Homo sapiens: one gene and its partners. The protein of the gene in region 1 interacts with the protein of each later gene in a pairwise test. Each region holds a gene or a part of one and is shown in the gene's direction. Other genes may lie near its edges.

The links. Proteins that work in one complex are often made in the same cells at the same time.
Region 2: the proteins of PRDM14 (region 1) and TXK interact in binary tests that used the Homo sapiens proteins (3 or more experiments, as listed by UniProt).
Region 3: the proteins of PRDM14 (region 1) and BCAR3 interact in a two-hybrid assay, tested with the Homo sapiens proteins (one large-scale study listed by BioGRID and IntAct).
Region 4: the proteins of PRDM14 (region 1) and CHEK2 interact in a two-hybrid assay, tested with the Homo sapiens proteins (one large-scale study listed by BioGRID and IntAct).

Annotation. Positions count from the first base shown.
Region 1 is NC_000008.11:70,057,753-70,061,252, reverse strand, and holds part of PRDM14 (PR domain zinc finger protein 14), read left to right. Parts: intron 1-2,410; coding exon 2,411-2,613; intron 2,614-3,500. UniProt on the Homo sapiens protein: Transcription factor that has both positive and negative roles on transcription. Required for the maintenance of embryonic stem cell identity and the reacquisition of pluripotency in somatic cells.
Region 2 is NC_000004.12:48,089,251-48,092,750, reverse strand, and holds part of TXK (tyrosine-protein kinase TXK), read left to right. Parts: intron 1-2,926; coding exon 2,927-3,001; exon of another isoform or gene 3,002-3,110; intron 3,111-3,500. UniProt on the Homo sapiens protein: Non-receptor tyrosine kinase that plays a redundant role with ITK in regulation of the adaptive immune response. Regulates the development, function and differentiation of conventional T-cells and nonconventional NKT-cells.
Region 3 is NC_000001.11:93,561,241-93,564,039, reverse strand, and holds the end of BCAR3 (breast cancer anti-estrogen resistance protein 3), read left to right. Parts: intron 1-1,620; coding exon 1,621-1,799; 3' UTR 1,800-2,299; downstream 2,300-2,799. UniProt on the Homo sapiens protein: Acts as an adapter protein downstream of several growth factor receptors to promote cell proliferation, migration, and redistribution of actin fibers.
Region 4 is NC_000022.11:28,689,821-28,693,320, reverse strand, and holds part of CHEK2 (serine/threonine-protein kinase Chk2), read left to right. Parts: intron 1-3,500. UniProt on the Homo sapiens protein: Serine/threonine-protein kinase which is required for checkpoint-mediated cell cycle arrest, activation of DNA repair and apoptosis in response to the presence of DNA double-strand breaks.

The DNA of each region.
Region 1 (3,500 bases):
CTTTATCCTCTGGGATCCAGAGTGTCCTCTGCAGGGATGCTTTTGTAGGTGGCCCCTGTTCTCTCGCCTTCCCCCAACACATAGACACCCCTGGACGTGGGACCTGCTTTGCTAGAGTCTAGCTGCACCCTCTCTAACTTCTCTCCTCCTCCCTCCTCCATTGATAAAAACAGATTTACCTCTCAGTCTTGTCTGCCATTCAGTGATAGTATCACTCACATTGGTAAGACTCGGTAAGTGTTAGAATTAAATTAGTCATCACGGTAACCCTGTGCATTAGGGAAGTCAAGATGCTTTCAACCTTACTCTATACATAAAGATTCTAGCTCTGGAATCTGCCACAAGTTTTGAGTAATGAAGTATAAACTAAGAAGGTCCCTTGAATTGTGTAGAATAGAACAGCACTGTGAGCTGCGGGTGTCCTGGTGACTGCTCTGAGCTTGTAACTCAGGCTGATCTTAAAGGCACAAAGAGAAATAGGTCGGCCTCAGTGCCTCAGTGTATTAACCTTGTAACAAGTGCCAGGCAGGAATGTGTTCAAGAGCTGCAGGGTTGCACTGCCCTTAAATGGGGCTGGTGGAATGGTCTCTTCAACAGTACATATCAAGGAACAAAAGGGAAAGAGAGCCTATAGGTTAAGATATTTAAGAGACATAGCAACCATATACAACATGTAGACTTTGTTTGAAGCCTAATTTGAATGGACTGACCAGAAAGTAATTAAACAAATATATATGTGTGTATATAAATGTGCATATATAAGTACATATATGTTTCTATAAAAGAATAAGAGTTAATCGTTTAGGTATGACAATGTGACAATGACATTATGGTTATGTTTTTTTTTTTTTTTCGAGACAAAGTGTTGCTCTGTTGCCCAGGCTGGAGTGCAGTGGCTCAATCACTGCTCATTGCAGCCTCAACTAACTTCCCCAGGCTCAGGTGATCCTCCCATCTCGGCCTCTGGGACTAAAGGCGTGTGCTATCATGCCCAGATAATTTTTATTATTTTTTTGTAGAGATGGGGTCTTACTATGTTGCCCAGGCTGGTCTCAAACTCCTGGGCTCAAGCGATCTGTCCACTTCAGCTTCCCAGAGTGTTGGGATTATAGGCGTGAGCCACTGCACCTGGCACAATTATGCTTTTTTTTTTTTTTTTGAGATGGAGTTTTGCTGTTGTTGCCCAGGCTGGAGTGCAGTGGTGCAATCTTGGCTCACTGCAACCTGCGCCTCCCAGGTTCAAGTGATTCTCCTGCCTCAGCCTCCCAAGTAGCTGGGATTACAGGCAGGCACCACCACGCCTGGCTAATTTTGTATTTTTAGTACAGACGGGATTTCACCATGTTGGCCAGGCTGGTTTTGAACCCCTGACCTCAGGTGATCCACCTGCCTCAGCTTCCCAAAGTGCTGGGATTATAGGCGTGAGCCACTTTGCCTGGTCACAATTATGCTTTTTAAAAATATGTCATCTTCTAAAGATTACGGTTAGATGTTTTTGAGTCAAAGGATGAATTAGTATTAAAATAATCTACTATGGCGAGCGGTGATATAAATGAAAACAAAATTAGTTACGAGTTGGTCAAAGCTTGGTGTTTGGCACATGAGGGTTTATTACACTATTATTTTCACTTTGGTATGTTTACATTTTTCTGTAATAAAAAGGTTTTTAAAAATTCTCTTGGCGGCCGGGCATGGTGGCTCATGCCTGTAATCCCAGCACTTTGGGAGGCCGAGGCAGGTGGATCACAAGATCAAGAGATCAAGACTGTCCTGGCCAAGATGGTGAAACCCCACCTCTACTAAAAATACAAAAATTAGCTGGGCGTGGTGGTGTGTGCCTGTAGTCCCAGCTACTTGGGAGGCTGAGGCAGGAGAATCACTTGAACCCGGGAGGTGGAGGTTGCAGTGAGCCGAGATCACACCCCTGCACTCCAGCCTGGGTGACAGAGCAAGACTCCATCTCAAAAAAAAAAAAAGAAAAGAAAAGAAAATTCTCTTGACCAGGCACAGTGGCTCACGCATGTAATCCTAGCACTTTGGGAGGCCAAGAGGGGCTGATCACCTGAGGTCAGGAGTTCTAGACCAGCCTGGCCAACATGATGAAACCCTGTTTCTACTAAAAATACAAAAATTAGCCAGGCGTGGTAGTGGGCACCTGTAATCCCAGCTACTTGGGAGGCTGAGGCAGGAGAATCGCTTGAACCTGGGAGGCAGAGGTTGCAGTGAGCCAAGATCGTGCCACTGCACTACAGACTGGGCAATACAGCAAGATTCTGTCTCAAAAAAAGAAAATTCCTCTTGAAGTAGCCAAAGAATTCTTGGCTAAAAATAAATAAATAAATAAATATCCTCTTGAAGGAACTAGGGAGGGAAGTAACTGAAGAGACATTGTGTTTGCTGTGTTTGACAGAGTCTGCAGAAGGCTACAGATGTGAAAGATGTGGGAAGGTATTTACCTACAAATATTACAGAGATAAGCACCTCAAGTACACCCCCTGTGTGGACAAGGGCGATAGGAAATTTCCCTGTTCTCTCTGCAAACGATCCTTTGAGAAGCGGGACCGGCTTCGGATCCACATTCTTCATGTTCATGAGAAGCACCGGCCTCACAAGGTGAGTATTAGGAGGACACATGACCCACCATCACGTTCTCTCTCCCTTCCCAAGCTCCTGAACACGGGGAGTTGCCTTGTAGGTGCTAGCTGCAGGGCTGTGATGCCTGACGGACACCCTCTCTGAAGGAGGAGAGGATAGTATTACGGAACAGGCAGGCGTGAATAGGCACAGCGATGCACATGTGTTAGGATGCAGGTACCCACAGAGGGAGGAACATGGAGGAAGGAGTGTCCACGGCCACCTGGACACGTGGATTATGAAAGATGCACAGAGGTGGCCTTGAGCCAAGTATAGAAGGACAAATGGGGTGTCTGATTTATACTGGTGGCAGGGTTAGTTGGGCAGGAAAGAGTCGAGCTGTTCCAGACAGGAGAGAGCCTGGCATGTGCTCCTGGGGAACTGCGCCTTGTTCCAAATCTGTGCAGGTGTGTTGACAGGTATAGGTAAGAAGGAAGTGAAGGCACGGTCCTTCCAAGGAGCGGAAGGCCTCTACAGTGGGCCGAGGATTTTGTAAGACAGAAAATCAGTAATGACATTACGGAGCCATTCCAAATACCTGGATGCTCTGCTAGGCTTGCTGCAAAAAAGTACAATATTCCCTTGGGCTTAATTAAAAGGAGGACGAGGCTTGGGCACAGATGTATTCTTGCTTGACTGTTGGCCTTGTCGGAACTACCTCAGGCAGCTACGACCTTGAGCCCATTTTCCTGTTTTGAAAACTGAGAATAAAATCATCATAAAATTGTCCTAATTTCTCCCTTCCTTCCTAAGCTTCTGGAAAAGTCATGTTTAATCACTATATTATATACTCCTATAAAATTTGAATACATTTACAGTTATCATGCATTTGTGTAATTCTAAAAGGATTTAAAAATATCAGGACG
Region 2 (3,500 bases), on another chromosome or scaffold:
CCTTACCTGCCATCCACTGTTCCTTTCTCTCCTGTATCTCTTCCATTCTTCTGACTGTCTCCCTTTAGCTTTTAACCCTATAAACATGCTTAAGACTTTCTTATCCTAAAAACAAAAACAACTCTCCTCCTGCTGCCCTAACTCTTTCTCCCTTTACACATTGCTCTTGTAAGTCACACTTTTGGAAAAATGTGTCCACATCCATTGTCTCCACTCTCTCACTTTCCATTTACTTTTTAAACATCTATGATCTGTCTTCTGCTTTCAACACTCCATATTTGACCAGTGGCCCCTATATTGACAGTACAGTGGTGCTTTCTAGTTCTCATGTGTTCAGGTCCTCTCTGCTACATTTGGCAGTGTCACTTGTTGCTCCTTCGATGTTTGACACCACCCCTTTTTGGCCTTCTCTAACTCAATAGTTCCTAATGGATCTTCCCAATGTGCCCTACTTCTATTCTTCCCTTAAATATTGGTTTTCCTCCAGAATCCGTCCCTGATCACTACTCTTCTCACCTTAGGCATCTCCCTTTGCATAATCTTCTGTCTGGTAGACAAAGGCACTTGCAATCCCGCAGGCCCTGAACTTCACTGATGAAGTAGGATGCTTCATCTTACACCATTACTCTCCCTCCAAATGTCCTCTTTCTTTTCTCTCTCTCAGATAATACTAGCATCATCCAGCCCCTTGTAGGGGTTGGAAGCATAGGAATTAAATAGATGCTTCTTAATAGCTCACTTCTGATTAATTATCAAATGCAATTGATTTCATATCCTAAATGTGTCTCCTATAGATCCCTGCCTCTCCCTACCTTCTAGTGCTGCCCTGATCATTGCTCACTTGGACAACTGCAGTAGCCTCTTAACTGGTCTTATTGCCTCCAATGTTGATTTCCCCTTAATCCATTCTGCTAGTACCAGAGTGATCTATCAGAAATGTAAATCTGGCTGGGTGCAGTGGCTCATGCCTGTAATTACAACACTTTGGGAGGCCAAGGTGGGTGGATCACCTGAGGTCAGGAGTTTAAGACCAGCCTGGCCAACATGGTGAAACCCCATCTCTACTAAAAATACAAAATTATCCAGTCATGGTGGCGCATGCCTGTAATCTCACCTACTCGAGAGGCTGAGGCAGGAGAATCGCTTGAACCTGAGAGGCGGAGGTTGCAGTGATCCAAGATCACACCATTGCACTCCAGCCTGGGCAACAAGAGTGAAACTCCATCTCAAAAAAAAAAAAGAAAAGAAAAAGAAATGTAAATCTGACTGTGCCCTCCTACTTGGGACTTTTCAATAGCTTCCTCTCACCTGCAGGAAAATGTAATGCTTCCTAGCGTGGCTTATGAGTCCCATCATACCCAGAATACTGCTTACCTCTGCAGTGCAATTTGTCTGGCTCTACCTCCTGAGTTTTGCTCAAGTACCCACCATCATGCTTCACATTTCTAAGTTTCATCTCATGCGTTACCTCTGCTTAGAAAGTCCTTCATAGTTTCTCCCCATGGGTTAACTCCATGTGTTAGTTTCATCTCAGTCATTTCCTCCCAAAGAATTCTTCGAGTCCAACAATGTGTCAAGTGCTCTTTTTCTACATCCCAAGGCACCCTATATGCATCTCCAGCAGAATACTTATTCCTTTCACATTAGAATGGCCTCTCTCTGCCTGTCTTCTCTCACTGAGATAGAGCTCCCTGTGGGCAGAGTCCTCATCTTACTCATCTTGGAATCTGCTGGAATCTTTGGGAATCTACCTAGAAGAGTGCCTTGCACACAATAGGCACTTAATATGTGCTTCTTTTTGTTCTTACACTGGTCAAGCTCGTTTCTGTCTTCCAGCATTTACACATGCTGTTCCATCTACCTGGAAGGCTCTTCATCAATCAACGTCAGCGTAGCTGTCATCTTGTCTGAAAGGCCTTCCCTGAGCACCCACTCTAAAGTAATTATATGTTATCCGGTCTGCCTTGCACTTAATCATCATTATCTACTTTTTCTTGTGTGTGCATGCCCTTGTTATTTTCTCTTCCTCTCACTAGAATGTAATCATGAGAGCAAGACCGAATCATCAGTCTTGTTCCCTACTGTCTCCCAACATCTAGATAGTGTTTTATTGAAAGCTTTTATTGAAAGCGCATACCAGGCTTTTAATAAATATTAGCTGAACAAATAAATAATAAATGATTATTAAACTAAGTTGAAACGTAAGGTATATGCCTAAGTGGGTCACTGAAAGGAAAAAAAGAGACATTTGATGTATAGAAATCTATATGTTAACCCAATTAAATGAAGTCTCATTTACTCTACCATGCTATTAAAAATCAAATAAACAAAGATTATACAAAATGGGCACACTTCAACACCGTTGGTGGTTGAATAAATTAGTACATCCTTTCTGGACACGCTTTGACCTGGAAATCACATTTTATAAGGTGATAATTTGAGAAGTACAGACAAATGTATGTTCAAGGACATATGGCATATTTTATAATAGCGAAATCTTGGAAATAAATTTAAGCTCTGTTTATAGTCAATGACATATATCAATTACGTGCATAGTGCAAAAAGCTTTTAACAAAATATTTATATTTCTGCAAAATATATTGGATGTGTTCATGTTTTCAATTATGCACATAGTGATTTTTGCAAAAATATTCACCAAGATGATAACAATCTATCTGTGAATACTAAGATTTTGTGAGGGATTTTTTAGGGTCATCTTTATACTTCCTTAGATTCTTTAAATTGTATACAATGAGTATATATTTTTTTTTGGAAAATGTGGGAAAATAAGCAAACTGCTGACTAACTGGTAGAATGAATTTTGTTTGTCTAATTATTTAAAGAATGGTACTGTCTTCTAGAATATTTCATTCTTTCTTCTATATTAGCAACTAGGCTTGAAATATTGATTTCTCTTTCTCCTTAGGTCTCATGACTCGTCTCCGATATCCAGTTGGGCTGATGGGCAGTTGTTTACCAGCCACAGCTGGGTTTAGCTACGGTAAAGTGTGCACACATGCTGAAGTAAAATAGCAAATCCAGTAGTAAAGAATCTACCTGGCTGGGTGCGGTGGCTCACAGCTGTAATCCTAGCACTTTGGGAGGCAAAGGTGGGTGGATCACCTTAGGTCAGGCGTTCAAGACCACCCTGGCCAAAATGGTGATACCCCGTCTCTACTAAAAATACAAAAAATTAGCCGGGTTTGGTGGTGGATGCCTGTAATCCCAGCTACTTGGGAGGCTGAGGCAGGAGAATCGCTTGAACCCAGGAGGCAGAGGTTACAGTGAGCTGAGGTCATGCCACTGCACTCCAGCCTGGGCAGCAGAGTGAGACTCTGTCTCAAAAAAAAAGGAAAAAAAAAAAAGAATCTAGTTCCCTATTGATTCTTTGAACTCTCAGCACTTCCGAAATGTCTATCTAGAAACATTTCTTCTCAAAGTTTACATCACCCTTCTGAGATGTTTAAATATGTGCATCTCATAAGGACAATTTAAACTTT
Region 3 (2,799 bases), on another chromosome or scaffold:
GATACCACCACACTATCTAGAATGGCTACAACTAAAAAGAATGATAGGCCAGGCACGGTGGCTAATGTCTGTAATCCCAGCACTTTGGGAGGTCGAGGCGGGTGGATCACCTGAGGTCAAAAGTTCGAGACCAGCCTGGCCAACATGGCAAAACCCCGTCTCTACTGAAAATACAAAAAATTAGCCAGGCGTGGTAGCACACACCTGTAGTCCCAGCTACTTGGGAGGCTGAGGCAGGAGAATTGCTTGAACCCGAGAGGTAGAGGTTGTGGTGAGCCAGGATCGTGCCACTGCACTCCAGCCTGGGCAACACAGCGAGACTCCTTCTCAAAAAAATAAAAATAAAAAATGATAAAACTAAGGGTTGGCAGCATGTGGAAAAACTGGAGTCTTCATATGTTACTGCTGTGAATATAAAATGATACAGCCATTTTGGAATAGAGTTTAATAGTTTCTTTAAAAGTAAACATATACTGATTGTATGACCCAATAATTCCTTTCCTAGAGAAATGAAAACACATGTCCACACAAGATTTGTACACAAGTGTTCACAACCACTTACTCATAGCAGCCAGAAGCAATCCAAATGTCATCAATTGGTGAATGGATAAACAAAAACAATGGCATGTCCATAAAACTGAATATTGATCAGTAAGAATGATTAGCATGCAACATATGGAATAATCTCAAAAACATCATGCTAAGTGAAAGAAGTCACACATTAAAAAGTTCATAGTGGATGATTCCATTTATCCCATATTTCTAGAAAAGGCAAAACAGTAGCAACAGAAAGCAGATCAGTGGTTGACTGAGGTCTGCAGTAGGAACAGGAATTGACTGCAAAGAGGTACTAAGGTGATGGAAGTGTTCTAAGACTGGTGGTAATGGTTTATGTAAAAACTTACCATCATAAATCAAACTCCACAGCCAAAAACAGGTGAATCATATGACATGTAAACTATACATCAGTAAAGTTGGTAAAAACAAGTAACGAACTCCTAGGTACAATGAACCCTCCTTCCCACAGCACTACTTCCCACAGTGGTTTGTACAAACCAATTTCACTCTATTGTTTTTTAATGAGTTTACCTGTTATTTCTTCTCTGAAGGTGCTTAGGTTCTGCAGGGTGGGGCTCTGCTCTCCCTTATATAGAACAGATCCTATATTTTTCTTTGGGGACATTTTTTAAAGTTCTGAGAGAGAGAAGATGTTCATTTTGATGCTACTTTAAGCAAGCTTTCAGTCTATTTTTTTTTTTTTTTTTTTTTTTGAGATGGAGTCTCGCTTGTCACCCAGGCTGCAGTGCAGTGGCGCAGTCTCGCTCACTGCAAGCTCCACCTCCCGGGTTCACGCCATTCTCCTGCCTCAGCCTCCCGAGTAGCTGGGACTACAGGCGCTCGCCACCACGCCTGGCTAATTTTTTGTATTTTTTTAGTAGAGACGGGATTTCACTGTGTTAGCCAGGATGGTCTCGATCTCCTGATCTTGTGATCCACCCACCTCGGCCTCCCAAAGTGCTGGGATTACAGGCGTGAGCCACCGCGCCTGGTGCTTTCAGTCTATTTTTAACACATCTTAGGCAGAACTGAAGTAACTTTTTGTTTATTTTGTTTCATTAGGTTTTCAACCAGATGAAGAAATGAATGAAATCTGCAAGACTGAATTTCAAATGCGATTGCTATGGGGCAGCAAAGGTGCACAAGTCAATCAGACAGAGAGATATGAGAAATTCAACCAGATTTTAACTGCCCTCTCGCGTAAATTGGAACCTCCTCCTGTAAAGCAGGCAGAGCTTTGATAACTCTCCAGAGAACCTTTAGAATATCTTTTCAAGTTTCCCCAGCTTCATCTTTGGGAAAGCTTACTGTTTTTGATAAAGTAATAATGTGCAAATCTGACAATATACAAGCTTTTAGTATCCACAGGATATTAAACGTGTAAATTGCACAGAGCACACTTATTTATGAATTGTCTAAAGTTACTACTGATTTTAAAATGAATAATTTATTATTAAGGTAACTACTGCTAATGTTGATCAGCAAATTTAAGAGAAGACCTAGCTATGTTGGCTGGTTGCTTTCTATTATCATGGTATTTGACCATTTTAGTTTTAATTCCATGTCAGATAAGTGTAAATAGAAGAGTTTAAAAGCATGAAACATTTCAGAAGGTATCAGTTATATGATATTCTTTAAACAAATATGAAAAATGTAAATACTCATGAATGAAAATACATCTTTTTGTGAAACAGTTGTATCCAGTCTCTTTCATATTAAACAACTCATCTTGGTACAATAACTCTACCTCTTAGCTACCTCAAGCATGCTCTTCCCTAGGTACCGTATCCTGATAGTAAACCAAAATGAATGAAAGTGGTATGAAAAATTTAATGTTCCTGGATTAAAAGGCAGAGTGATTGATAGTGACACAAGGTAGAAACAGCTCGAGAGGACCTGGGTTCAAACTCAAGCTATGGTACTTGCTACCAGCTGGAGTTAGGCCAAGTTTACCTCATTGAATTCCATGTGCAGCATGGACACCCAGTATGATGAACATAACATCATCTCTTCACATATTTCAGAGTAATCAACTGTTTTACCTTTTCCTCTAGCTGATAAGTACAACAATGAGTTTCCTAGGTTGGCTTTCTAGGTTTCTCATTTTGCAAAGGGGATACTTTCTAGTTTCTTTCTAGTTTAGCAATATCCCTCTCAACTTTCCCTATTGTACAAAATTTGGAATATAAGACTTTAACGTATTCTGTTACTCTGCCATCAACTGTCAAACTTCTTTTAATA
Region 4 (3,500 bases), on another chromosome or scaffold:
TCTGTATTACCGCTGTGCTCCTGCTAGGGGTTGGGGCTGCCATTTTTAAATGCTGACCTCATCTGGAACTGCCAAGAGTTGGAAGTATGTTGTGGCTTTGCTGGGTTAATCTTTAGTTTTAGAATTAGCCACGGCATTGGGCAGGTTTTTCTGATAGATGTCTGGTCTTCTGTAATGAGCAGTTCCATTCAGCACAGACATGCCCCTTTCTATGAATTTTTTTTTGGTTTGTGTATTAGTCTGTTCTCACACTGCTATAAAGAACTGCCCAAGACTGGGTAATTTACAAAGAAAAGAGGTTTAACTGACTCACAGCTGCACATGGCTGGGGAGGCCTCAGGAAACTTATAATCATGGTGGAAGGGGAAGAAGGCATGTCTTAATGGCAGCAGGTGAGAGAGCTTGTGAAGGAAGTGAAGGGCGAAGATCCTCTTATGAAACTGTCAGATCTGGTGAGAACTCACTCACTATCACGAGAATAGCCTGGGGGAAACTGCCCCCATGAGCCAATCACCTCTCAACAGGTCCCTTTCTCAACACCTGGGGATTACAATTTGAGATGAGATTTGGGTAGGGACACAAAGCCAAACTGTATCAATCCGTTTTCTGTGGAGATGGGGGACAGAACTGGTAGCTTGAGCTAGAGGCTGTTACTTGAGCTAAATGCTGTTTCTCTGGGGATTACTGGTCCAGGAACTCCTTGGGCAGTCCAGCCTCCGACCCGTACTTCTGGGACTCTGGGAAGACTGTCCCTGTTCTCTGTTCCAATCCTCTACACCTAACAGTTTTGCTCAGGCCAGCTCAGGTTGAGAACAACAAAAACTTAAAACAAACAAACAAACAAACAAAAAAAGACATATATGTGTTTGGATGTTGCCCTGGAAACTACAGTCTCCCCAGAAGAAATCTGTCAGATGATTTAGCATTTAATAGACCACACAGATTTGAAACAGTGGGACCCTGGAGGAAAGGGGTTTGGAAACAAAGGGTGCCTTTGCATGTGGGGATTTTAATTTTGATGAAAAAGAGAAACATGTCTTTTGGCTCTTTTCATGTGTCCTAATAGGGAAACTCTTGGGTCTAAATGTAGAGGTACAGGAGCTGTGTTCATCTCTAACAAAAAATAGAGCTGGCCAGTTGAGCCTGGGAACAGGGTTTGCATCTGCCTGAAATTTATGAGCAAGCATAGCCTATCTTTCTTGTACTTTTTTGTGTCAAAGAAAACTTATTAACAACCAAGGAGAAGGTGAAGTTCAACTCTGTTGCAGGATCTCCCTGGAATACTCTTTTAGCCACCTTTTGTTTTTGCAGTGAAAGGAGGAATGAGCATTGAATGAAGACAAGGATGAAGACTGACCATCTAAAACATCTGTTAGTGATAGTTTGGGTTTTATTTTGGGAAAATTCAGTGTTTTTGAAAAAACCAAATGGTTTTGTGGGTCTGTCGCTGAACTGAGTGTTGGGAATGTGGATTCTGGTCTCTGTTTTGTCATTAACAGAGTGCCCAGTTTTGGGAGCATCCCTTACATCTACTCTCTGCCTCATATTTACTGCCTGAAATAGAGGATTTCTTCTGTTTACTTTCAAGGGATATTACAATTTAATTTTTATTTTATTTACTGTTGGAGACAAGGTCTTCTTCTGTTGCCTAAACTGGAGTGCACTGGTGCAATTATAGCTCACTGCAGCCTTGATCTCCTGGCCTTAAGGGATCCTCCCGCCTCAGCCTCACAAAGTGCTTGGATAATAGGCACGAGCCACTGTTCCTGGCTAATTTAATATTTTGGAATAATTGTAGACATCATGAAGAAAATCAATGTTTATTTATTTATTTCCTTTTTTGAGATGGAGTCTTGCTTTTGTCTACCAGGCTGGAGTGCAATGGTGTGATCTCAGCTCACTGCAACCTCTACCTCTGGGTTCAAGTGATTCTCCTGCATCAGCCTCCCAAGTGGCTGGGATTACAGGTGCCTGCCACCATCCCAGCTCATTTTTGTATTTTTAGTAGAGATGGGGTTTCACCATGTTGGTCAGACTGGTCTCGAACTCCTGACCTCAGGTTATCTACCCACCTTGGCCTCCCAAAGTGCTGGGATTCCAGGCATGAGCCACTGTGCCTGACCTGATTACTTGTTTTAAATACAGGCCTGATTAGGCTTGTGACCACTCTGTTTGGCTTCACTGAAGGGCTGCCAAGAGATGGACTTTTGAGAGTGACACTGCAAGATAATTGAGATCCTAAGTAAGGCCGTGAGAGGGTGCGGAGTAGAATCCAGATGAGCTTGCTGCTGTCAAATGGCAATGGGGAGCTACACTGAGAAACTCAAAACAGAGTGACCTCAAGTGATCTGCCCTGCCTTGGCCTCCCAAAGTGCTGGGATTACAGGCGTGAGCCACTGTGCCTGGTCCTTCTTTCCTTCTTTCTTTCTTCCTCCTTCCTTCCCCCTCCCCTCTCCTCCATTCCTTTCCCCTCCCTTCTTTCGTCCCCCCTCCCCTTTTTCCTTCCTTGCTTCTTTCCTTTCTTCCTTCCTCAGGGTCTTGCTCTCTCACCTAGGCTGGAGTGCAGTGGCATGATCACTGCACCATGACTTTCAGGCTCAAGTGATCCTCCTGCCCCAGCCTCCCAAGTAGCTGAGACTACAGGTGCATGCCACCATGTCTGGCTAATTTAAATTTTTTTTTTTTTTTTTTTGGAGACAGTGTTGTACTCTTTTGCCCAGGCTGGAGTGCAGTGGTGTGATCCTGGCTTACTGCAACCTCCGCCTCTTGAGTTCAAGCGATTCTCCTGCCTCAGCCTCCTGAGTAGCTGGGATTACAGGCGTGCACTACCATGCCCTGCTTATTTTGTATTTTTAGTAGAGAAGGGGTTTCACCATGTTAGCCAGGCTGATCTCAAACTTCCGACCTCAGGCGATTCGCCTGCCTTGGCCTCCCAAAGTGCTGGGATTACAGGCGTGAGCCTCCGTGCCTGGCCTAATTTTTAATTTTTTTTGTAGTGACGAAGTCCCACTATGTTGCCCAGGCTGGTCTCAAATTCCTGGCCTCAAGCAATTCTCCCACCTTGGCCTCCCAAAGTGCTGGGATTATAGGCATGAGCCACCATGCCCAACCTAGTGTTGTAAAATTTCCATATCCATCAAATTGCCAAATGGTGGAGGACTTTACTGTATCCTCTCCCTTTCCCCACTGTGGTATGCTTGGCTCAGTGGGAGGAGGGGCTGGAGTTGGGTGGGAAAGTACATGAGGCACTGGAATCAGATAACTCTGGGTCTGTATTCTGCACATGCCACCTGTGAGTGGCTGAGCTGGGCTTCTGGCCAGCACTCAAAGGCCACATTCCTAGTTATGGATGTTCCTTTCACCTTGCTGAAGATGGGGAGAGCTGCACCAGACCACCTCTCAGGGTTTCCTAATGCAAATCCTCGAACCCTGCAGAAGTGAGCATCCAGAGAGGTGGGAGCTACTCGCATACACACTGTCTGTGCCCTCCTCATCTCCTG